Homo sapiens: one gene and its partners. The protein of the gene in region 1 purifies or fractionates together with the protein of each later gene. This does not show direct contact. Each region holds a gene or a part of one and is shown in the gene's direction. Other genes may lie near its edges.

What was found.
Region 2: the proteins of C3AR1 (region 1) and UBE2Q1 purify together in Homo sapiens (affinity purification with mass spectrometry; 2 studies listed by BioGRID and IntAct, with this or other methods). This does not show direct contact.
Region 3: the proteins of C3AR1 (region 1) and ATP2B4 purify together in Homo sapiens (affinity purification with mass spectrometry; 2 studies listed by BioGRID and IntAct, with this or other methods). This does not show direct contact.
Region 4: the proteins of C3AR1 (region 1) and MFSD8 purify together in Homo sapiens (affinity purification with mass spectrometry; 2 studies listed by BioGRID and IntAct, with this or other methods). This does not show direct contact.

The regions. Positions count from the first base shown.
Region 1 is NC_000012.12:8,063,323-8,070,387, reverse strand, and holds the start of C3AR1 (C3a anaphylatoxin chemotactic receptor), read left to right. Parts: upstream 1-4,028; 5' UTR 4,029-4,110; exon of another isoform or gene 4,111-4,167; intron 4,168-7,065.
Region 2 is NC_000001.11:154,555,663-154,562,883, reverse strand, and holds the start of UBE2Q1 (ubiquitin-conjugating enzyme E2 Q1), read left to right. Parts: upstream 1-4,221; 5' UTR 4,222-4,330; coding exon 4,331-4,657; intron 4,658-6,919; coding exon 6,920-7,024; intron 7,025-7,221. UniProt on the Homo sapiens protein: Catalyzes the covalent attachment of ubiquitin to other proteins. May be involved in hormonal homeostasis in females. Involved in regulation of B4GALT1 cell surface expression, B4GALT1-mediated cell adhesion to laminin and embryoid body formation.
Region 3 is NC_000001.11:203,741,815-203,744,601, forward strand, and holds the end of ATP2B4 (plasma membrane calcium-transporting ATPase 4), read left to right. Parts: 3' UTR 1-2,267; downstream 2,268-2,787. UniProt on the Homo sapiens protein: Calcium/calmodulin-regulated and magnesium-dependent enzyme that catalyzes the hydrolysis of ATP coupled with the transport of calcium out of the cell. By regulating sperm cell calcium homeostasis, may play a role in sperm motility.
Region 4 is NC_000004.12:127,962,167-127,969,893, reverse strand, and holds the start of MFSD8 (major facilitator superfamily domain-containing protein 8), read left to right. Parts: upstream 1-4,720; 5' UTR 4,721-4,760; coding exon 4,761-4,822; intron 4,823-7,727. UniProt on the Homo sapiens protein: Outward-rectifying chloride channel involved in endolysosomal chloride homeostasis, membrane fusion and function. Conducts chloride currents up to hundreds of picoamperes.

The DNA.
Region 1 (7,065 bases):
AAACCTGAAAGACCATTTAATCCAACCTTTAATTTTCCACCTAAGAAAACAACAACAAATTTCTAGGTCAAGTATCTAGCCCAAGGTCGAGTAGTTATTACAAAACTGAAAGTCAAATGTATGTCTCCACATTCCTGGTCTAGTGCTCTATTCACCTCATGAATCTTTTCTTCCATAAAAATTTTCCAGCTAATTCTAGCCACCATCAATCAATCTTACCCTTTGCTGACCAGCCATTGCATTTGTCTGTGTCATCCACAGTTTTTGGCACTTAGTTATATTTAATTTAGAGCATAGGTTACTACAAATTATCTAATAACGGATTTAATCATTTTTTGTTGAAGTCTTTAAGGACAGTAACTTTATAATGTATTTAACTCTCTCAGAGAAAACAAGCTAGAGATCTGTGATTCTAACATTTTTATTTTGGCCAAACAAGCTTTAATACAGATCTCCATCAATTACAGTGTAGAATTAGTCAAGTGACTGGTAAAAGGTTTTAATATGGCTGCCTTTGCAACATACATTCAAATTTTCTTTTTTCCAAAGCATCTGATCTCTGCTTTTAGAAATTTATATTTAGATATTCAGAATAGAACAAAACAGAAGTGAATCACATAACTTCCTCAGAGCTTTCCACAATACACCACAAAACAACCAGTACTTTTTAAGAAGAGAGAGAGGTCATCCAGAAACAGGAGCACTATTCACAACAAGTTTTTAGTAATTTTCTTCCTGAAAAATCCAAAGAACACAGCTGGGAGCTCTTGAACCAGTTTAAATTGCTGTATAACATCCAGCTAAATTTTTATATTTTTAGTAGAGATAGGGTTTCATCACGTTGGCCAGGCTGGTCTCGAACTCCTAACCTCAGGTGATCCGCCCGCCCTGGCCTCCCAAAGTGCTGGGATTACAGGCATGAGCCACCACACCCAGCCACATTGCTGTGTAATCTTTAGAGAGAGAGAAATTAGTAAAAGTGAATTCATGCCAGAAACAACTCTAAGGACTCAAGTTAATTATTTGAATTATATTCAGATGTCAACATCCTTTTCAAACAAACATTCATTCACTTATTGGTGCCACAGACCTGTTATACCAGGCAAGGTAGCAGCCACTGGAGACAGACAAGAAATTCATGGTAGGGGAGAGAGAGAGACAAGGTATTATTTTACAGTACTATTGCCTGACAAATTTCTACCCATCCTTATGGCCCCAATGCTACCTCTTCAGTGCATCATCGTGGGTTTGCTTCCATGAGAATTAGTCTCTTACGGTTTCATATTCCCAGGGTGTATTGTGCCCTCCTAACAGCCCCTACTGTATTACAGTTATATACATCTCTCATTCCTCCTCCATCTTCCGCAGTGCAACACACTGTATCAGGAGCAGGAGCAGAAGCAGAGTATATGTTTATGGTACTGAACTTAGTGTGACAATTTGTGAAGTCTCTTTAGTGGAAAATTCTGTATCTTTCAAAATGTAAAAGTGTGTGCTCTTAGACTTAGCAATTCCAATTCTAAAACTCTATTCTACAGAAATACATGTAAATACTATAGTGCTCATTGAGTTTTGTTTATAATCATTTAAAATTGGATAAAAACAATATTCCACGAAAAATAATTAAGTAAGTGGAATAATATGGAGCAACTTAAAAAGTATAATTTGGGACCGCACGCAGTGGCTCACGCCTGTAATCCCAGGACTTTGGGAGGCCGAGGTGGGCAGATCACCTGAGAGCAGGAGTTCGAGACCAGCCTGGCCAGCATGGTGAAACCCCGTCTCTACTAAAAATACAAAAAATTAGCCAGGTGTGGTTGTGGGCACCTGTAATCCCAGCTACTTGGGAGGCTGAGGCAGGAGAATCGATTGAAGCCAGGAGGCAGAAGTTGCAGTGAGCCGAGATCGCACCATTGCACTCCAACCTGGGTGACAAGAGCAAAACTCTGTCTCAGGAAAAAAAAAAAAAAAAGTGTAATTTGGGCCAAGATGTCCTGATATAAAAAGATAAGTGGAAAAAATAGAACAAAACAATATGCGTAGTAGAATATGCGTATTTAAGAGAGAGACTACATCTGGAAAGTGGAAAGAGGATAGCTAGGTGTTTAGGAAATTTTGGTTTTTACTTTAATCTTCTCATATTTAATTTTTACCATGGGGAATTAATTGTTTTTATAAAATATATTTTAATTAGATATATATGTACATATATGATAATCCTACATTTTATATGCTTTCTGGATACCTATATTATTCAATATTTCCAAATATTGGAGGAAAGAAAACCCAAAATAATCAATAGGATTATATGTACTAACATGGAAGTATGTTTTGATATATTGTTAAGTAAAAAAGCAAGACATAAAATCACACATAAATTACCATCCCATTTATGTTCAAAACTACCTTTTAGAAAAATGTGTGTTAGGCCGGGTGGGGTGGCTCACACCGGTAATCACAGCACTTTGGGAGGCTGAGGCAGGTGGATCACCTGAGCTCAGGAGTTCAAGACCAGCCTGCCCAACATGGCAAAACCCCATCTCTACCGAAAAAATATAAAAATTAGCCGGTTGTGGTGGCACATGCCTGTAGTCCCAGCTACTAAGGAGGATGAGGTGGGAGAATTGCTTGAACCTAGGAGGCAGAGGTTGCAGTGAGCCAAGATGGTGGCACTGCACTCCAGCCTGGGCGACAGACTGAGGCCCTGTCTCCAACAAACAAAATGTGTGCTATATTCAGAAAAAAAAAAATCAGGAAGAATGAACACTAACCTATTAAAAATAGTTACTTCGAGCAGTGGAATTGAAAAGAAAATCTTTCATTTTTTTTACCCATTATAATTCTGTATTATTTCAATTTATCTCTTCTAGAACAAAGTATGTTCTATTTTTGTAATTAGATGATGACAATGGAAATAAACTAATAAATACTACTCAACTCTTGGCATTTTTCTTTTGATCTTTCTGCCTCAAAAATATTCCGTGGTGACTTGACTGCAAACAAGCAGAGGAGCAGATATTATGGTTTGGACAAGTTGATTAATATAGACTGAAGCCTATATCACAGACAACAGTGTTCAAATACATTTGACCCAAATAAACTTTATTTTATATGCATATATCTAAAAGAGTATATGCATATATCTAAAAGAATAATATAAGAATTATTTACAGCATAGTATTCATTAAGCAGGAATTACCTTCAGTCTTCTGTACTCCTTCCTGATGAAACAGCACCTAGACTCCAGCCTGTTCTCCAGTGACCACTAAGCTCTCCCACCTACCTCCCCACCTACCTGCCCTCTACCACCTACCTGCCTTTGACTAGGCTCCACTTATAGCCTAAGCAGCTTTTCACCTTTTTCTGTCTCTAGAATTCCTACAGGTACTTAATTAAGTACTTGCCCACATCTTATTTCTATCTTAAGACTCTCCTAGATTGCCCTGGGTTATATATACCCCTGGCTAGAGTGTTCTATTATTTTACTTCTATTGTTACTTCTATTATTATAGCCTAGTTTGTATTACAGCTTTGTGTGTATATGTATGGGTACATATTCCCACTCGATTGTGAATCTCTGGAGATTAGAATATAGCTTAATTCATCCTGATTTTGACATGGCACCGTTTTTCACATATATCAAGCATTTCAGATATGTTATTTGAGATTAATTAAATGAGTTTATTCAGGTCATTCCTCCCCAACCACTCCCCACTCCAACCCTCACATCTCATAGAGTCTTTTTTTTTTCATTTCTAAACAAAACCTATAAAGTTGAACCCTATGTACAGAGGTACCCTCTCTCTAACCATTCTCTGTGTGCTGCAGAAAATGTCTCAGGATTATAAACTCCTACTTCTGTTTTCCTGCTTTGCCTTTCTAAGCCATTTAGAAATGACTCACTTTGAAACTCTTCCTGTGAGGTCAGATAGTGGTCTAGAGCATAAGACTTAACTTATTGCCGGAAACAGAGAGAGAACAGAAGAAGAGAAAGCTCAGCAAATTTTCTTGCCATACTTCATGACTTCACTGTGGCTAAGTGTGGGGACCAGACAGGACTCGTGGAGACATCCAGGTGCTGAAGCCTTCAGCTACTGTCTCAGTTTTTTGGTAAGAAAACCTAGACCTACCTGATGACTTGTGCTTAGCCTGTTTTGCTCATTATAGGTAATGAGTTTGAGTGTCACTATCTTCTATTTCCCCTATTCCTTCTCTGACTTTGAATTCTTTTATCTTATCTCTATGTCTAACTTCCTTTTTCTAAATATTCCACATTGCATTTGTCTTTGCTTTTAATATTTTCATAGTGGAATTAATAGTGAATTTTTACATCATTTCTTTCCTTTCTTTGAATTGGCTATGTATTTCACCCTGAACTTTGATTCCAGCTGTCCCCATTAATTTGTTTTTCAAATAATTGATTGCACTTTTTTTCCCTTTCCATTTCCTCTTTCTTTTTTTTATTCTTTTGCCCATTCCTTATTGCTACTGACTCTGTTATCCTATTACTACAATTTGATTCTGGGGTCCACTTTTCTTTCTCTATCACAGTGGAATTTTAGTTTCAGGATATTAATTACCTTTAAATTACGGCTGGTCAACTTAGTAATAATTTTTTTTAATCCTCTACTAATCTTAAACACATAAAGGTATGGTATTTTTAGCCAAATTAACTTGAAGAAATGTAAAAAGTAATCTTGCTCTGCAGGACTTTTTTTTTTTTTTTTTTTTTTTGAGACAGAGTCTCACTCTGTTGCCCAGGCTGGAGTACAGTAGCATGATCTCAGCTCACTGCAACCTCCGCCTCCCAGGTTCAAGCGATTCTCCTGCCTCAGCCTCCTGAGTAGGTGGGATTGCAGGCACGTGCTACCACACCCAGTTAAATTTTTTTGTATTTTTAGTAGAGACAGGGTTCCACCATGTTGGCCAGGTTGGTCTCAAACTCCTGACCTCAGGTGATCTACCCGCCTCTGCCTCCCAAAGTGCTGGGATTACAGGCGTGAGCCACCACACCCAGCCTTGTTCTAAAGGACTTTTAATCCCTGACTCCTACATACTTTCATTTCAAAACAGATAATAACAATATTTAACATATAGCTCATGACAGATAACTCTATTTTTATTAAAATTTTGCTGTTTGCAGTCCCTGCTACTTCAGTTCATGCAGTTCTCGGCAGCTTCCCCTTTATTAGCAATACCATATATCTTTTTTTTTTTAATGTGATTTTTTTTTTTTTTTGGTAGTAAAAACAGCATTTGCCTAACAGTCCTCGGACCTGAAATCCAAGAACCTCCCTAGTAATGATTATATGCTTGTAATCTAATTTGCTGAGTTTCACTGTCAAACTTGAGAAATAAAAGCAGAGAAAACGTAGGCTGGGCACAGTGGCTCATGTCTGTAACCCCAGCACACTGTGAGGCCAACATGGGAGGATTGCTTGAGTCCAGGAGTTTGAGAGCAGCTTGGGCAACATAGCAAGACCCTATCTCTACAAACAAACAAACAAACAAACAACAACAACAACAACAAAATGAGGAGAGGAGAGATGATTACCAAGTTTTCTTTCAGCCCTAGCATCCCATGACTCTATTCTTCTCTCAATATTTTAGGGGGGTACCGTGATAGTATTTAAATATCTGAGTAGACAAGGCCATGGAAAGGGGAATGAGAATAATTTCTTCTTCTTTTTTTTTTTTTGAGATGGAGTTTTGCTTTTGTTGCCCAGGCTGGAGTGTAGTGGCGCAACCTCGGCTCACCACAACCTCTGCCTCCCAGGTTCAAGCGATTCTCCTGCCTCAGCCTCCTGAGTAGCTGGGATTACAGGCATGTGCCACCATGCCCACCTAATTTTGTATTTTTAGTAGAGACAGAGTTTCTCCATGTTGGATAGGCTGGTCTCAAACTGACCTCAGGTGATCTGCCTGCCTTGGCTTCCCAAAGTGCTGGGATAACAGGTGTGAGCCACTGTGCCCAGCCCATGTCTTCTTTTTTATTATTTTGTTGACTTGCTATTTTAACTTCTGCTAATCATATGAGGCCCTATGGCAATATTTGGCTGACTCAGCAGAACTACTTTCAAGTCACAAAAATATTTTGAGCCTCTATAAAAGTAAAATGTTATTTTATCCAGTAAAAATTAGGAATTTCACAAAAAGAAAGTTAAAAGGGACAGCATGGGAATTAAGGAAGAGGCCTGGGTAAGGATTACATGGATACAAATTAGAATTTTAGATGTAATTGCAAAAGAAAAAAAAAGTCAACCCCCAAAATGGGCATCCATCTATTCAAGTAATTTTTTTTTTCTTTTTTTTTCTTTTGAGACAGAGTCTCTTTGTCATGCAGGCTGGAGTGCAGTGGTGCAATCTCAGCTCACTGCAACCTCCACCTCTCCAGTTCAAGCGATTCTCGTGCCTCAGCCTCCCAAGTAGCTGGGATTACAAGTGTGAGCTACCACACCCAGCTAATTTTTGTATTTTTGGTAGAGATGGGATTTTGCCATGTTAGCCAGGCTGGTCTTGAACTCCTAGCCCCAAGCGATCTTCTCCCCTCGGCCCCCCAAAGTGCTGCGATTACAGGCATGAGCCACTGCGCCCAGCCTTTCCACATAATCTTTAACCTTGGTGTCTCATAAGGCATTATGTTAAATTATGTGAAATGAGCATTTATGAATAAGACTCCTTTTTACCATCATAAAGTTTAAATCCAGAATAATAGATTAGACAGCCATTATAATTATTGTACAAGATAAAATGTGTCATTGCATATAGAATATGAAAAAAAGGTTCAAACATGCGCACACACACAAATTAAGAAGCTGAAGACTTGGTGAAGGGCATAATTCCAGATAGAAGTAAACAGCATTAGCCATGGAACGGAAAATGGCATTAAGTTGGAATAGTGAATTGTTCAGGAAAGCTATAAAGCAGGGTACATTTACGAGCATGTTCACAGTTAGGGGAAGGTAATATCACAGAGGCCAAGAGAAGAGAGTGTTAAGAAGTCAGTGTATCTAATGACACATATTGTGGAAGGTGACTGAGAAACAAACGTTTGGATTTGGTTTT
Region 2 (7,221 bases), on another chromosome or scaffold:
ATAACACTGTATTTTTGCTGTACCTTTCCTGTGTTTAGATAGATACATGAATACATATTATTGGGTTTCAACTGCCTACAGTAATTGCAGGAATTCTAGTGGGCACGGGGAATGCAGCAACTGTATTCACTACAGTATAACATGCAGTACAGGTTTGTAGCCTAGGAGCCATAGTCTAGACCCTATAGGCTAGGTGTGTAGTAGGCTACACCATCTAGGTTTGTGTAAGTACACTATGATGTTCACACAACAAAAAAACCACTGAGACACATTTCTCAGAATGTATCCCACCATTAACTGACACATGACTGTATATGCATTTCTGTTGGGTACATAACTAAATCGCATATTTTTTTTTTAATGGAGCACACTGTAACATAGCTTTGTAACCACCTTTCTTTTTTAAATCTTCAGCTCACTTCAGTCTAATCTTTTTTCATTTACTATTTCTCAAACAACTCTCCATACCAATAAGTATTTTTGATAACTATTTTTCACAGCTACAGTTTTCCCTTTTAGGCAAATTTGTGCACGTACCTTTTCTTTCCAAGTGTAATTGCTGGGTTAAAGTTTTAACGTGTTTTGAATATTAACTGCTAAACTGACTTTCAGAAGCATTGATACTACCAGGCTATCAGGGTTACCCTGGGATCTCAGGCAATAGCCCCAACGACCAACACCTCTACAACTCTTGCCTATGCTGAGCTCCCTCCTTGTCTCTTTCCCTTCCTTTTATTTGAGTCAGAGTCTCACTGTCACCCAGGCTGGTCTGCAGTGGCACCATCTTGGCTCGCTGCAACTTCCGCCTCCTGGGTTCAAGCATTTTTCGAGCCTCAGGCTCCTGGGTAGCTGAGACTATAGGCGCCCGCCACCACGCACGGCTAATTTTTGTATTTTTAGTAGATACAGGGTTTCACCATGTTGGCCAGGCTGGTCTCAAACTCCTGACCTCATGTTATCTGCCTGCCTTGGCCGCCTCCCACAGTGCTGGGATTACAGGCGTGAGCCACTGCACCAGCCCCCTTCTTAAGTCATTCTTTCTTTGTTTTAGACCTTTCTTCCCAACCTCCTTCTACTTTAGGGCCCAGTTCTTTCAGAATGTTCTCCCATTCCACCTAAGAAACTCTTACTTTCACATTTTTTTTGGAGTTAATCCTATTAATAATATCACCCTTCAAGGCCGTTCCCCTTCTTGATCCCTATTATTGTGTTCATCGTATTGTATTACTGTTGGTGAGATTTGGCTCCACTTCATCCATCACTGTGTGCTCCTAAGGGCTGGAGCAAGAATACAACAAAACTAATAAGTAGGAACTGTCCGGTAAGAAGCCTCTCCTCTGTACCACAAATCACGTTCTCACAGGGACCATTATCTTCTTTATCTCTGCATCCCCAGTGCCCTCTACAATTCCTGCAAAGACTAAGTGCTCAGGACATTATTTGTTGAGTCAATGACAGAATTCTATGCTCAGGGAGCAAGTCAAAGGAGAAGGTTGCTCACTCTACTCCAAATATGGGCACCCGTAATGAATGATTTTTTGGAGGAAAAAAAAATCCCTACAATCCATTTTCCACAGAACAGCCAGAGTGATCTTTTAAATTTGTTTTTGTTTTTGAGACGGAGTCTCGCTCTGTCGCCCAGGCTGGAGTGCAGTGGTGCGATCTCAGCTCACTGCAAGCTCCGCCTCCCGGGTTCACGCCATTCTCCTGCCTCAGCCTCCCGAGTAGCTGGGACTCCAGGCGCCTGCCACGACGCCCGGCTAATTTTTTATATTTTGTTTAGTAGAGACGGGGTTTCACCGTTAGTGAGAATGGTCTCAATCTGCTGACCTTGTGATCCGCCCGCCTCGGCCTCCCAAAGTGCTGGGATTACAAGCGTGAGTCACCGCGCCCGGCCGATCTTTTAAATTTTTAAATCAGCTCATGCCACTCCCTGCTTAAAATCCTCCAGGAGTTTCCCACTGTGCTTTAAATAAAACCCAAACAATGTACTGTGGTCTCCATAATCTAGCCCCTGCTTTCTTCACTGGACTCATCTCCTACCCTTCTCTCCTTTCACTAGACACAAGCCTTGCTGAGCCCCAATTTTTAAAAAAATGTTTGAGTTCTTACCATGGGCACTATTTTATGCACTTTACGTGTGTTCTTACATAATCCTCCTAACAAGTAAGTACTATTATGATCTCCATTTTACAGGTGTGAAAACTAAGGCACAAACAAGCTAAGTAATTTCCCCACAGTCACATCATTAGTAGTTGGCAGAGCTGGGGTTCAACACACTAAAAAAGGCAGAGTAGGGTACAAGGGCATGGACTTTGGAGACAGGCCTAGGAACTCTGTTTACAGACTGTATATCCTTACAGAGTCACTCCTTTTCCCCAGTTGTAAACAGGGGTAAAAATACTTACCTTGCAATGTTGTTGGGAGATTTACAAATATTTGCACCTGGGCACAGTGGCTCACACCTGCAATCCCAGCACCTTGGGAGGCCGAGATGGGCAGATCACTTGAGCCCAGGAGTTTGAGACCAGTCTGGGCAACATACCAAGACCCCTTTCTACAAAAAAAATACGAAAATTACCCAGCTGTGGTAGCATGCGCCTGTAATCCCAGCTACTTGGGAGGCTGAGGTGGGAGGATAGCTTGAGGTCTCCCGAGGCTGCAGTGAGCTGAGATTGTGCCCCTGCACTCCAGGGCGAGAGAGCAAGACCCTGTCTTAAAATAAATAAATAAATAAATAAATAAATAAATATATATATATATATATATATATATATATTTGCAAAACACCTTCGCTCAGGAAATAATTAACAGGAATTCCCACCACAGCCTTTTATGCTATCAGCTTGCACACACAGACACAAAGTCAACATGTAGCAAACTGTTCAGGCTACCTAAACCAGATAAATGGCCCCACGAAGACCAGGAACAGACTATAATCGTCTTTAAATACCCATACCCCAACTTGACCAAAGGAGGCCTCTGCAGAGGCAATTGAATAGTCTTCCAGCAAAGGCTAGCTCATTTTAGTACAAGTGGGAGAGAAACGGGGCAATCTGACCAGTGGTTTAAGGGCTGAGTTGGCCCAGCAGAATTGACTAGGCCTTACCACAGGCTAATAACACTTGCCCTTGGCAAAACGAACGCCAGCTCGGGATTTCTGTAGCTTCAACCAGCTTTGTCCTTTGTGATAGTGCCACCTAGCGAGGGTCCGGAGGCACTACCTACTCCTGGCAGCTGCCAAGACCACTGCGACAAGGTGTTAGCCATTTAGGCCTAGGAAAGGGAATGGGGACCACCCGAGTCAGCACTCCTTCCATGACTCTGTGGAGGAAGCCCATGCTGTCCTTCCCCCAACCTCGTCCAGACCCATGGGGTCTGAAAAGCGCGAAAGGCCTGATATTAACTAACACTTGTACATAACACAGCAGTGATCTATTATCATTCCTCATTTTATGGTGTCCTCGCATCGAATCCCTCCCTGGGAATAGGAAAAACAGGCATCATTCTCATGAGAGCCATTGTACAGATGAGGAAACTGAGACTCGGCGGGAAAGTGGTTAACCCAAGGTCACAAAACGCCATGAGAGCCAGGGCTGGGACGAGAATCCACGCCTCTTCCATTCCGGTTCCCGGCTCCTACCCCGACCACCCACCCGAGTGTGAAGACACAGCATGCCCACCCCCACGGGGAGCAGAGGCTCCAGGATCCTGCGCCGAAGACCAGCATGTGGGAGCAGGATAAAGACTGCACGGGGAAGACAGCACTTCTTTCTTCTCTGTCCATGGAGTGCCGGGCACGCTCGCCACGGCTCGGGGGCGGGGGAAGCGGCGCCCGGGGCAGGAAACAGCGTCCTGCGCGGGTAGCCCCTGGGAGCACGCGGCACCGAGTCACGTGAGAGGGGAGCGCAGGCGAAGGGGCGTCGCGCGCAAGCACGCACGACATACGCAAACTCGCACTGAGGCGCCCACAGAGGCAAGCCCCAGGCCCCGGGTCACATGTGGAGGGTGGCAGGCGAGAACAGGGGGGCGGGAAAGACGGAGAGATCACGTGGAGGAGGCCAGAGCAGGGAAGTCACGTGAGGGGGACGGAGGCGGGGCCGCCTAGGAGGAGGAGGAGGAGGAGGGGCGCGCGGCTTCCGGCGGCTGGGGGGGCCAGCGAGCGGAGGGGGGGGCCTGTCCCGGAGGTGGCGGCGGCGCCATCTTGGCGAAGGGGGGATCAGGAAGTGCGGACCGCGGCGGCGGCGGCGGCGGCGGCGGCGGCGGCGGAGCCCGGAGCGCAGGCCGGAGGCTCCCGGCCCGCCGGCCCCGGAGCGGAGCGGAGCGGAGGATGCAGCAGCCGCAGCCGCAGGGGCAGCAGCAGCCGGGGCCGGGGCAGCAGCTGGGGGGCCAGGGGGCGGCGCCGGGGGCCGGGGGCGGCCCAGGGGGGGGCCCGGGGCCGGGGCCCTGCCTGAGGCGAGAGCTGAAGCTGCTCGAGTCCATCTTCCACCGCGGCCACGAGCGCTTCCGCATTGCCAGCGCCTGCCTGGACGAGCTGAGCTGCGAGTTCCTGCTGGCTGGGGCCGGAGGGGCCGGGGCGGGGGCCGCGCCCGGACCGCATCTCCCCCCACGGGGGTCGGTGCCTGGGGATCCTGTCCGCATCCACTGCAACATCACGGTGAGGACCCCCTCGCGTGCGCCTCTGTGGGGGCCCCTTGTCAGGGACCCAGGATCACTCCATCCAGCTTTTTGCTCTCGAAGGACCTGGGAGGCCGAAGCCCCTCTCAGGGCTCAGTTCTTTCTCTCCAGGTTACATTTGTTTCTGCTGCTTGAGGTTATGCAGTGCACCCAGAATCTCTACCATTGACCCCAATAGCAAGGGACACCCCGACATATGGCGCCTAGACTACCCGTTTCCACGAACCCACCCACATCCCAAGGTTCATGATTTTGGCTCTTTTTGGCTACTCCTCCACAACTTTACCTTGCCACCTAGGAATGCGTCTTTCTTCCCCTTACTCTTATTTCAAGGTTTTAGGCCTCGGCACTGACCCTAACTGCAAAGACCTGGCCTGAAACTCACTGCACATTTCAGCGATGCCCCCTTCTCAGTAGTACCTCTGACTTAGGAGGTTGCCACCTGTGGGATCCCCGCCTAGGCATCCCTCATGCAGACCCTCTTGCTCTCTCAACTTCACCAAGTGATAGTTTGCAATTCATTGACTCCTCTTCCTTCTCTCCTTTGGATTCTTTTTCTGGTGTAACCTCTAACTCTCCTCTTTTTGCCTCAGCTGGTAGCAGTTCTGCCACTCCCCTGCCTGTTCCCTATGGATATGTCCATTTGCCCTGGGTTGTTGCTTTTCCTGGTAATGATAGTGATGTGATGTGCGAGGGCTACCCCCATTTATTCTAAGCAGTAACAGTTGCATTTCTCCCCTGTGAGCGTCATTCCATCCTAGGCATACACCTTACATGTCTCCTGCCTGGTCTACCCTCAGACATCCCTTGAACAGAGAATTGGCTTCTGCTAATTTGGGAATGTCTGGTACTGCATGCTATAGCACTTATATTGGTTGATGTTACCTGCTGTGATGGTATTCTCTCTACCGGAGCAGTAGCTGAAATGCTAGCAGACAGTACTTTATCCAGGCAGGCAGACCTAATCGGAGTAGCCTGGGGAAAGGCAGAGTTGTGAATTCTCTGCTACTTGGGGGCCTGAATTCAACTTACTGGTGTTTTCTGTCCGTTTTCTCAATCAAACCAAGTTAAGATTTGGTGAGGTAAAGCCTCAGTTTGGATTGATTGGTGCCCCACCAAAACTCATATGTCCCATTTCTCTTTTCATTTCCTTTCTTTTTTCCTGCTAGAAAGTTAAAATTGAAGGACTAGGAGTGGCTTAGTTAAGTGAAGACTTGGGCATCTTTGATAATTATTTTTCCTCCAGCATTGAGGATTAGAGTCATGGCAATGCTAAGATACCCAGTAGAGGTGGATAAGGTTTCCCTGGCTTGTGTGGGAACCTCGAGTTAATTTTGTTCCTGAATTAAGCTTCTAATTCCTTAAGGGTAGGTTTGCCCCTATCCAGCTGCTCTTTCTGTTGCCAGAGGCCATTTACTGCGTTTGTCCCTGGCAGGAAGTTAAATTTAGGGGGTCCTCAGCCAGACTCCCCATGGCTATAAAGGAGACTTGGCCTAAACTAGCCCCCTTGGTTTGGGCAGAGAGGGAGTCTGGTCAGGCTGCATTTGGCACCGTGGCTCAGGAATGCTGGGAATGTCAGTAGCGTAGGCTTCTTTCTCCCAGCCTGCCATGTGGAGCCCTACAGCCCACGCCTGGACTGAGAAGGTGGCAGGTTCCCAAGGGAGAGGTGGGGAGAATTGGTCTTTGAGGGGCTCTTCTGGAAGTGGTGTGGGTAGATTCTTGCCAGTACCCTTTTACTCTTGGGTTCTGGAGATACAGTCTAGTTTTTATACTTCTTCCCTACTGAACTCTGCTTTTTTCACTTCAGTGTCATTGTGATGAGGTGATCCCTTCCTCAGCCGATTCTGGAGTTTGAAAAGCAAGCTTGGAGGACTGTTCTGGGTCCAGGGAGAACTTGAAGTCTAGAACTTGTATAGGCAGTGCAGGAGATGAGGAGTCCCCCTTCGCTGTTAGCCAAGTTTGGCTGTGCTAGGTTTCCTGGTTTGTACTCTCGAGGAAAGAAAGAAAAGGTTTCAGTCTGCTTCTCGGAAAGGGTCTTCCCAGGGACTGTTTTTCTTCCAGTTTAGAATTTGTTGTGAAGCTGCTTGGTTAGATGCTGACCTAAGTTGGGCTTTTATGTGTGTGTAGGGGGTGGGGGTGGGAAGCAAAGGGGCTAGAAGTCTTGGGGGGAAGAGGACAGGCAAAATCTGGCTTTTCCCAGAGTCACCCATTTTGATTGCTCTTATTGCTCTTTTCCCTTCAGGAGTCATACCCTGCTGTGCCCCCCATCTGGTCGGTGGAGTCTGATGACCCTAACTTGGCTGCTGTCTTGGAGAGGCTGGTGGACATAAAGAAAGGGAATACTCTGGTGAGGGGGCCACAGGGTAGGGGTACATTTTGTTCTTATGAGGCCCATGCCACAAAGGCATCCTGTGAAAGGGATCCTGAAAAGTGGACGGTACACAGCTAAACATTTAGGGGATGACCTCTCGGGGGAGTTGCTTACTGAAGCCAGAGGGAGACCCTGCATCGGCCCTGGGATTGGTCCATCAGGAGACTCATTCC
Region 3 (2,787 bases), on another chromosome or scaffold:
AGGGGAAAAAAACAGCTCACCCAAGGTGTTAGGTTTCACATATATATTCATCAACTATTTTAGAAGATTTAATTCTATCAAATCTTGTATTACCTCAGATCATTTTAAATAGCAAGCCAATAACGAGCTTTGAAGGCTATTTTACCATTCCTGTTCACAAAAGGTTCTCATGGTGCCTGACAGGTTACCCTTGAGGGCTTGTGTCTACTTTTTAAAAGTCAATGGTTTTTTTTCTTGTGTTCTAGTTTCCATAATAGGAGAGAAAATATAGAAATATATGCAAAAATTATAGTTTTCTTTAGATCAGAAACTGATATTTTTGGGTCAGCCATATGTATTTTGTTTAAAGGATTTAAAATAAAGTGCCGTCATGTAGCCCTGTGGAAGGGAGCACATAACCAGCTGTTTGGCATGACAGGTGACTTAGTATATTTGTAATTGGTTTTAAAACCAATACACCATACTTTCTTTCTGCAAACAGCCATCTTTATACTTAGGGAAGAAAAATTGTTGGGTTCTAGACTTTTTTAATATAAATTTTGTTGATATGGAATTAGGTAAGTTTAAGTGTCTATGTGCATATGTTTTTTATATAAGTTTTTTCTATTCAGTTTCACTGATCCAACTGGCAGTGGGTAAATATGGCATAAGTTAATAACACTTTTCCCCAAAATGGTGCTTTGGATTTGAAAAGGGTCTGATGGGGAGAAGGAGAACGTATCATCCTAGCTTCCTCTCTTAATAAACCTAGAAAAACGGGTAGTAAACTGTGGATAGTCAGGAAAACACCCAGCAAGGGACACAGCTGTCAGGAAATGAATCTTCCCCCCAACCCCCACCATGCAGATGGATAGACAGAATCTTTCCTGACTAGTCATTAGGATCAGGGGCCTCTGTTGGATTTGTGTTTCTTGAAGAATAGCTGGCAGAGTGGTATAAAAGACACGAATATCTCCTGGTCTATAAGGATACTCTGATTTGGGGTTTGCATTTTTCATGGTTTTTATTTCCTGTTCCCCCTGGAGTTTTCCATTAGTGAGTTTTTGTGCAAGGATCTTATTTGTGATGCCTTCCCTCCCCTAGAAAGATTTTGTGCAATATATTAAATGGGGACAGAATTCTAAATGGATAAAACAATGGCTGGTTCTAGCCCTGAGTGACAGTCTTAAGGCTAGATCCTTCCCATAGTATCATCTGTCCTCTGGAATGACTCTCCTGTCCCTAAAGGGGTTAAGAGAGAGATCACCTAGAAATCCCTCTGGACACTTGTGGGTTCTTTAGGGTTTGAGTTTCTTCTTCCCCTTGAGCTTCAGAGAGGAGAGTTGGCATGGTTAAATCTGAATGGTTACCTCACTGCTGAAAACCCAGAGGGGCGTGGCACACTCGCTTGTGTGGAAAAGCCTCTAAATGCATCCCTTCCTTTCTTTCCTGCTTCCTTTGCCTTACAATTGAAGCAGCCCGTGGTACCATCACAGTATGCAGAGACTTCCTCACCTTTCATATCTAGGGACCACCCCCGATGCATTGGTGAGGGTGGGCACTTATAAATGCCTGCTATTGTTAAGCCATTCCAGCCTCTTCCTCTGAATAGACCAGACGCCCTTTCACTTAGTTCAGTGCCAGTCCTTTTGCCTTCCCAACCCTGCTGTTAGGCCTGCTGTTCCCTTTGCTCTTGATTAGGAGAGATGGAAGGAGATGAGCTCCCATAACTGAATTGGCCTTTGGTTCATGTTTTCTCCCCATATGTATATATGCCATATGTGAATATGCCATATATATGTGCCAACAAATCTATCTACGTTGTTCTTTTCAAATTAGCACGCAGATAGGAATTTTGAGTTTCTTCTTCTTTTAGTAACTAGTATAACAAGCACTGGTATTTTTGTACAAAAAAGAAAAACAAAAGATTGACTATTGTGGTCTGCATGACATAAACAAACAAATGGTGATATCAAAGCAACGTATACCCCAGTCCAGTGTGTGTTGCCATAATTTGCAATTCAGCTTAACAGTGCACCCAATCTATATTTGCATTTTGATATTATTTAAGCTCTATGTACAAGGTTTTGCATGTATTTATATGGTTCTTAGGGAAAAAAAATGCTATAAACTGCAAATCTGAAATTCAAATGTGTTGTTCCACTGAGACCAGAAGAAGAAGAGGAGTTTTAAAAGGGATAATTTGTTGGAGCCAATAAAGCTTTTTGCTGATGAACAGAAACCAATACTGCTGTGCACTGAGAATAAAAACTCATGCCCACTTGTAACTGTGCTGTCCTCAATGCGTCTCCACTTTTGGGTAATGCCACTGATTGTCTGTTGAAGTTGAGAAGGGAAATGCCGCAACCACAAGGACAACCCCATTTAAACAGGCACAGAATTCAGCTTACCACCAGACTCTGACAACGCTTCCCTTCCCTCTGGGCCTTCGCATTGGCTTCATTCCCTTGCAGTGCAAGCTGTGCTCCACCCACCTTGGTTAGAATCCACAGTTCAGGAGCTGGAGCTTTTGGAAGAATAAGAAAGAGGCAGTCTTGGCAGTCCTTGCTTTTTTTCTTTCCTTTTTTTGTTTTTTGTTTTTTTTGGTTTTGGTTTTGGTTTGTTTTATATGAAATGTCTTTTAGGAGAAGTAGTTTCCCTTACATTAGCCGCCTTTCCCTTGGGTTCTCCACCCTCCCCCTCACTTCCCTATGGTTTAAAAAATGTCTTTCATTAATTGAGTCTTGCTAGAGACTCATATTAGGCCCCAGTTTCAGGTCAAAACAGCTTCCTGGCAGGTCATTTACA
Region 4 (7,727 bases), on another chromosome or scaffold:
ACACCTGTAGTCCCAGCTACTCAGTAGGCTGTGGAGGGAAGATTGTGTAAGCCTGGGAAGTTGAGGCAACAGTGCACATCGTTGCACCACTGCACTCCAGCCTCGGCAACAGAGCAAAATCCTGTCTCCAAAAAAAAAAAAAAATTCCAACACCTATATTTTACAGTAAGAAGAAAAGTAATATACTGCTCATGAGATGCTCCATTTTCCTAAACTTTGATATTCTTCTAGATTGGTAGATAAAACCAAGATAAAGCAAAAATATAGAATTAGAAAGTTGCAAAGGAAGCAAGAAAGGACCTAAGAACAATGAACTTTTCAAATATTTTGTAAAGTACTATATTTATTGTTTGCCTAAATTATTTACTTATTTCTAGTTTTCAACCCAAACTAGAAAACCTTCCCAGTAGCTCATGCCTGTAATCGCAGCCCTTTGGGAGGCTGAGGCAGGCGGATCACCTGAGTTTGGGAGTTGGAGACCAGCCTGACCCATGGAGAAACCCCGTCTCTATTAAAAATACAAAATTAGCCAGGTGTGATGGTGGGCACCTGTAATCCCAGCTACTTGGGAGGTTGAGGCAGGTGAATCCCTTGATCCTAGGAGGTGGAGGTTGCAGTGAGCTGATATTGCACCATTGCACTCCAGCCTGGGCAACGAGAGCAAAAGTCCGTCTCAAAAAAAAAAAAAAGAAAAAAGAAAAAAAGAAAACCTTCCCAAATCACTTTAATTCCCTGCATAACAGGCCACAAAAGTCAGCACTCCAAACTTAGACACAGCATATTCCTTACTATATTTACCTACTAATAAACAACTAATAAATGAGGAAAAGAAAGTAAATCAAACGCACATATAGGTTAGTATAAATTTGGTTCTGGGGTTTGGGGTCATACAAATCTTCTTAAATCCCATTTCAGCTCCAAGAACAACATAAAAGACAGTTTTTGTGGAACTCTCTAAACACGTAAGTCTTTCTAGACAGGGTTGGCTGGGTCCAGGGTATCTAGTGCCACCATGAACAGATAAAAATCCAAGCCCAGGGTGAACGTAACTCCAAATCACCAAAATAAGGCACCATCTGGAGTCATGCCAGATACTTAAAAGTCCCCACTTCAGGCTGGACAGACAACAATGAGCTTCTGCAGAAATAGAACCTATTTTTGAAGTATATATCAAGCTAAAATGACACAGTTATCAATGTGAAAGGGAAAAGCAAAGGGAAACAAAAATAGAAGTTCTAGTACAGTGCCAAGAACTAAAAAGTCTTTCCTAGAAATGAGTTCTATTGCTAAAGTGACACTCATCATTTATTATGCTATCTAGTGCTTTTATTTCCTGTCATTTGGGTACCTAAGCATTTAACAATGCAATACTAATTTTTTCTGGACTTTTATCCTTACATTGGTGATACATATCTCAAAGGCATAAATGAAAATTTAAAAAATATCACCATGTACAAGAACTTATTCCCTTACCTAAAAAAGAAGACTTTAAATTTTATCTTGTAATTTCACTTCTAAATAATGTCTATACAAGTTTAAGTAGCTAAGAAAGGGTTTAGATACCTCAGATATCCACTGTTAAAATCTACTTCCCTAGCTTCACAAATATAATTCAACAAATATAATTCCTTACTCTTACACTGAACAAGAGTAAGAAAATAGGATGTTTGTTTGTTTATTTTTTGAGACGGAGTCTCGCTCTGTCGCCCAGGCTGTAGTGCAGTGGCGCAATCTCGGCTCACTACAAGCTCCGCCTCCCGGGTTCACCCCATTCTCCTGCCTCAGCCTCTCCGAGTAGCTGGGACTACAGGCGCCCGTCACCACGCCCGGCTACTTTTTTGTATTTTTAGTAGAGACGGGGTTTCACCGTGGTCTCGACCTCCTGACCTCGTGATCCGCCCGCCTCGGCCTCCCAAAGTGCTGGGATTACAAGCGTGAGCCACCGCGCCCGGCTGTTTGTTTGAAAGGGGTGTGGGTAAATATCCTGGGCAGTCACCTAAGGAAATGCACCAAATGGAGTCTCATATTCTTGTGTGAAACATTCGGGAAATAATCTAATCTCTTCAAATTTAGCTCCTCTTTTCCATGGGCTTTATAAAAAAAAATTACATATATATATATGTTTAAATGTTTACTTTGGATGCTATGTGTGTGTTCCTAAGAGACATTTTCTTTTTTTTTTTTTCCTACTGGTACAATACACTAAGCTTACTTAGATTTCACCAGCTGTATATGTACTCATTCCATATGCTTTTGTGGTCTGAAGTCATCACTTGGAGGCACCAATGGAAAAGAGCAGTGTCAGAGGGCTGGGATTCCTCTACCAGCTGTGTGACCTTGAGTAAGCCACCTTAACCTATAAACAGAAAGTAATATCTGCCCTGATACATGATAGCCAATTATTTCACTTAGATAAAAACTGAATATCTACTATATATTTTTATGAGATATAAGGAAAGATTCTTCTTGCCGCTTTGCCATTTTTTCCCATAAGAAGCCTGGTGGTAAAGAGCACAGGCTTAGGATCAGGAGTCCTGCATTTCTTGAATTCTAGCTCTGTTGCTTGTTAGTAGTATGATCCTAGGCAAGTTACTTAATCTCCCTGCCTTCCATTTCCTTGTACACATGAGACAATTCCCCCCTCAGAGGATTGTTGTAAGGATGAGATGAAGTAATTCAATGAGCATTCATCCAACATATATTTATCTAGGAGCCATTCTGCTTACTGCTATACTGGTTAAAAATCCCCTTGTCCACTATATATGTGCCATACATTGCTAGCCCCCAGGAATTAAAAAAGACAATATAATAAAGCGACATTATGGCAAGAAAATACTAACTTTTCTACCTATGTGTCTTTTTGGAACCAATAATACAAATCTGACTTGTTTTTGTGAGCTGTTACAAATGAATCTGCAAGACTGAATCCAAGTACAAAATATCAGGTCTTGATTTAGAAGATATTTCTGAATAGCACGTTTCAAGGTTTTTGGTTTTTTTTTTTTTTTTGAGACAGAATCTCACTCTGTTGCCCAGGCTGGAGTGCAGTGGCGTGATCTCGGCTCACTGCAGCCTCCGCCTCCCGGGTTCAAGGGATTCTCCTGCCTCAGCCTCCCGAGTAGCTGGGACTATAGGCGCCCGCCACCACGCCCGGCTTTTTTTTTTTTTTTTTTTTTTTTTTTTTTTTTTTTGTATTTTTAGTAGAGACGGGGTTTCACCGTGTTAGCCAGGATGGTCTCGATCTCCTGACCTCGTGATCCGCCCGCCTTGGCCTCCCAAGGTGCTGGGATTACAGGCATGAACCATCGCACCCAGACCGCACGTTTCAAGTTTAGGTGTTCACCAGTGAACTGCGCCTGGCTGATACACACAAGGTCACAAATGACACAAAGATCAGAAGTGATGGCATATACCATACATGACTGTGTAACTAGTATAGGACCTAGCATAGGGTAAATGCTCATAAATATTAATTTAAAAAAATTAAGTTTGGTTTCCAACTTTGCCACTTCCACACAGAGTGACTCTGGGTTAACTTGTCTGGATCTTAATTTTCAGTAAACTAGCAATGTGTCTGCTTCGCCTATCTCATAGGATACTTGTGATCAAATGAAATTACATGACAATGTATCTGGCGCTAATAAAACGGTAATTTATGAGACACAGAATGACTACTGACGCCAGCTAGCCTACAAGCCTAATAGTAGAGATAAGATGTTAATACATAACCACCAAGAAATAAACATGGAGATCTAGTGAAAACCCATGACATGTTTTCTAAAAATGTCATCTTCCTTGTGACGAAAGGAGCTGGTCATTGCTAGGCAGGTGCTGTACCTTTTTCAACTCCCACGTTTCAGCAGCAGGCTCTGCTGAGTGACATTTTGCAAGGCTGAGGCCCCCGTAGGCGCAGGCGCCGTTGGGGTGCGCATCCGGGGACCTGCAGGTTACAAGCAGCAGATCCCACCTTCAGTCCTGGCTCTGACAAGCCCTCCAGGTAAGGCGCCTTTGCATTTAGCCGAGCTAGAGAAGAGAGCTGGAAGCCACCTCTACCTTTCACGGGGGGAAGGGACTGCCCGCGCGCTCGCCCCCATTATCTCAGCCCTCCGAAGCGCGCCACGGACTCCAGCCTTGTCTCTCACCCCCAGCCTCACCCCGCGTCCCTGACCCGCGAGTCTCCCGCCCAGCTCCGCGTCCCCGGTCCCTGCCTCCAGGCGCGTACACGGCGCGCTAAGAGGCGCGGGGAGCTCTTAGCGCACCTACTACTTAACCGGACCGGCTACTTACTGGCCGCCAGGTGGAAGCCTGCGATCGAGCTGGCCGGGCCTCCCAGCACCGCCGCTCTCCAGGCTCCCTTTCCAGGACTCAACTTTGGTCCCAGCCCCAATCGCAGCTCCGGTAACCTTTCCAGGAACCGAAATGCTAGATACAGCGGAAGGAGAAACGGAGGGAGGAAGACAAACCCGGAGCAGGGCGGCGCGGCAGTTTGGACACGCCCCGAGCTCTCCTGGGCTCTCAGTCCCCGTCAGGATGGGAGGCGCGTGCCGAGGGAGGAGGCTGAGGACACAGCCTCCTTTCGCCCTGCGCTGCCCGGCCTTCCGCGTGACCCCGCCTATGACCTCGGGGCGTTCCGCCTACGTCTGACCGTCAGGTGCGCACGCGCACTTACAGGCTTGTTTTGCCAGCTTCACGCCACCCGGGATGGGAGAAAGCAGGTGTCGCGAGAGTTGGGCGCAAGACGCCTTGTAGGGAGTGTAACTATGGCCGGCCTGCGGAACGAAAGTGAACAGGAGCCGCTCTTAGGCGACACACCTGGAAGCAGGTGAGCGGATCCTGGTGGAGGGACCCCTCAGTCTCCTGCGCTGTTGGGACTGGTTCCTTTCCGGGCGTCACCCGCACTGGGACAAACCCTCGCTGCCAGAGGGGTTCCAGCGCGGTGGGAGCCGGTGGCTGGGTTGTGTGAGCCGAGGAGATTCGCTCCCAACGTAGGAGAAAGGGCGTCTGGCCGCACCGTGCGGTGATGAGCCCGTGGGTTCGAGTGACGGGGCTGGAGAAACCCAGGCTGCTGCTTTGCCTGTTGCAGCACCCAAGCTGAGAGGTGACAGCGTGCTGGCAGTCCTCACAGCCCTTGCTCGCTCTCCAGGCCTCCTCTGCCTGGGCTCCCACTTTGGCGGCACTTGAGGAGCCCTTCAGCCCACCGCTGCACTGTGGGAGCCCCTTTCTGGGCTGGCCAAGGTGGGAGCCGGCTCCCTCAGCTTGCAGGGAGGTGTGGTGGGAGAGGCGTGAGCGGGAACCGGGGCTGCGCGCCGCGCTTGCGGGCCAGCTGGAGTTCCGAGTGGGCGTGGGCTTGGCGGGCCCCGCACTGGGAGCAGCAGGCCGGCCCTGCCGGCCCCGGGCAATGAGGGGCTTAGCACCCGGGCCAGCGGCTGCGGAGGGTGTGCTGGGTCCCCCAGCAGTGCCAGCCCACTGGCGCTGCGCTCGATTTCTCGCCGGGCCTTAGCTGCCTTCCCGCGGGGCAGGGCTCGGGACCTGCAGCCCGCCATGCCTGAGCCTCCCACCCACTCCGTGGGCTCCTGTGCGGCCCGAGCCTCCCCGATGAGCGCCGCTCCCTACTCCACGGTGCCTAGTCCCATCGACCACCCAAGGGCTGAGGAGTGCGGGTGCACGGCGCGGGACTGGCAGGCAGCTCCACCTGCAGCCCCGGTGCGGGATCCACTGGGCGAAGCCAGCTGGGCTCCTGAGTCTGGTGGAGACGTGGAGAACGTTTATGTCTAGCTCAGGGATTGTAACTACACCAATCGGCACTCTGTATCTAGCTCAAGGTTTGTAAACACACCAATCAGCACCCTGTGTCTAGCTCAGGGTTTGTGAATGCACCAGTCGACACTCTGTATCTAGCTACTCTGGTGGGGCCTTGGAGAACCTTTCTGTCAACACTCTGTATCTAGTTAATCTAGTGGGGACGTGGAGAACCTTTGTGTCTAGCTCAGGGATTGTAAACGCACCAATCAGCGCCCTGTCAAAACAGACTACTCGGCTCTACCAATCAGCAGGATGTGGGTGGGGCCAGATAAGAGAATAAAAGCAGGCTGCCCACCAGTAGTGGCAACCCGCTGAGGTCCCTTTCCACAGTGTGGAAGCTTTGTTTTTTCGCTCTTTGCGATAAATCTTGCTACTGCTCACTCTTTGGGACCATACGGCTTTTATGAGCCGTAACACTCACCGCGAAGGTCTGCAGTTTCACTCCTGAAGCCAGCGAGACCACGGGGAGGAACGAACAACTCCAGACGCGCCGCCTTAAGAGTTGTAACACTCACCACGAAGGTCTGCAGCTTCGCTCTTGAGCCAGCGAGACCACGAACCCACCAGAAGGAAGAAACTCTGAACACATCTGAGCATCAGAAGGAACAAACTCCAGACGTGCCACCTTAAGAGCTGTTAACACTCACCGCGAGGGTCCGCAGCTTCATTCTTGAAGTCAGTGAGACCAAGAACCCACCAATCCCGGACACAAAGCCACCACATTCTGTATCTTCTGCATTCCATATTTGGCCCTTTGTAGCTGATCACTTTCCAGATTTCACAGTTTCAAAATGATGGTTTTAATAGATACTTGAAGGTATCGGTCTTAGTAATGACCTGCTGCCTAATTGCCTGACAACCTCTTGATAGTTTAACAAATCTGTCCAAAATGAGCTCGCCTTTGTCCTATGCCAAATGTACAAAGAAAGACTAATTTTAAGGCATTAAAGGAATAACGTCAGTATTTTGATCCTTATAATTCTGGTTGTTCTGATCCTAGTTTATGGGCAGTGACTCGGGAATGTATACCTAATGTATTTTTACCTTTAGGAAAACGGAATTACTATTTTATTTGAAATATACATAATAATTACCTCAGGTAAATTAATAAATTCAGTTAAACTTCAGCTGTCTATGACCATAATAATTTTTACTCATTTGTTCCCCTTAAGCACCAACCTTTTGTGAGCACTCTAACTCAAAACCCTTTGGCAAATGTATTTCTCTGGTCCTCGATTTACTAAACAGAGTTTATGCAATGCAGTTTTATCTTTACTTGATTTTATCTTGAGATCATTAAAATGAGTTTAGATGCTGATATGAATTTTAGTAGAGTGATGTCCTGAGAGCCTATTGAGACATTTGGGACTGTTTGCTTCTATACCAATTTATTTTACACTGCTATACTTTTTTTTTGAGACGGGGTCTTGCTCTGTGGCCTAGTCTGGAGTGCAGTGGTGAGCCTGGAGTGCAGTTTTATCTTTACTTGATTTTATCTTGAGATCATTAAAATGAATATCGATGCTGATATGAATTTTAATAGAGTGATGTCCTCAGAGCCTATTGAGACATTTGGGACTGTTGCTTCTATACCAATTTATTCTACACTGCTATACTTTTTTTTGAGACGGGGTCTTGCTCTGTGGGCTAGTCTGGAGTGCAGTGGTGCGATTTTGGCTCACTGCCACCTCTGCCTCCCAGGTTCAAGCGATTCTCCTGCCTCAGCTTCTGGAGTAGCTGGGATTAACAGACGTGGGCCACCAGACACGGCTAATTTTTGTATTTTTGGTAAAGACAGGGTTTCACCAGGTGGCCAGGCTGATCTGGAACTCCTGACCTCAAGTGATCCACCCACCTCAGCCTCCCAAAGTGCTGGTGTAGAAGCAAACAGTCCCAAATGTCTCAATAGGCTCTGAGGCCCGTTG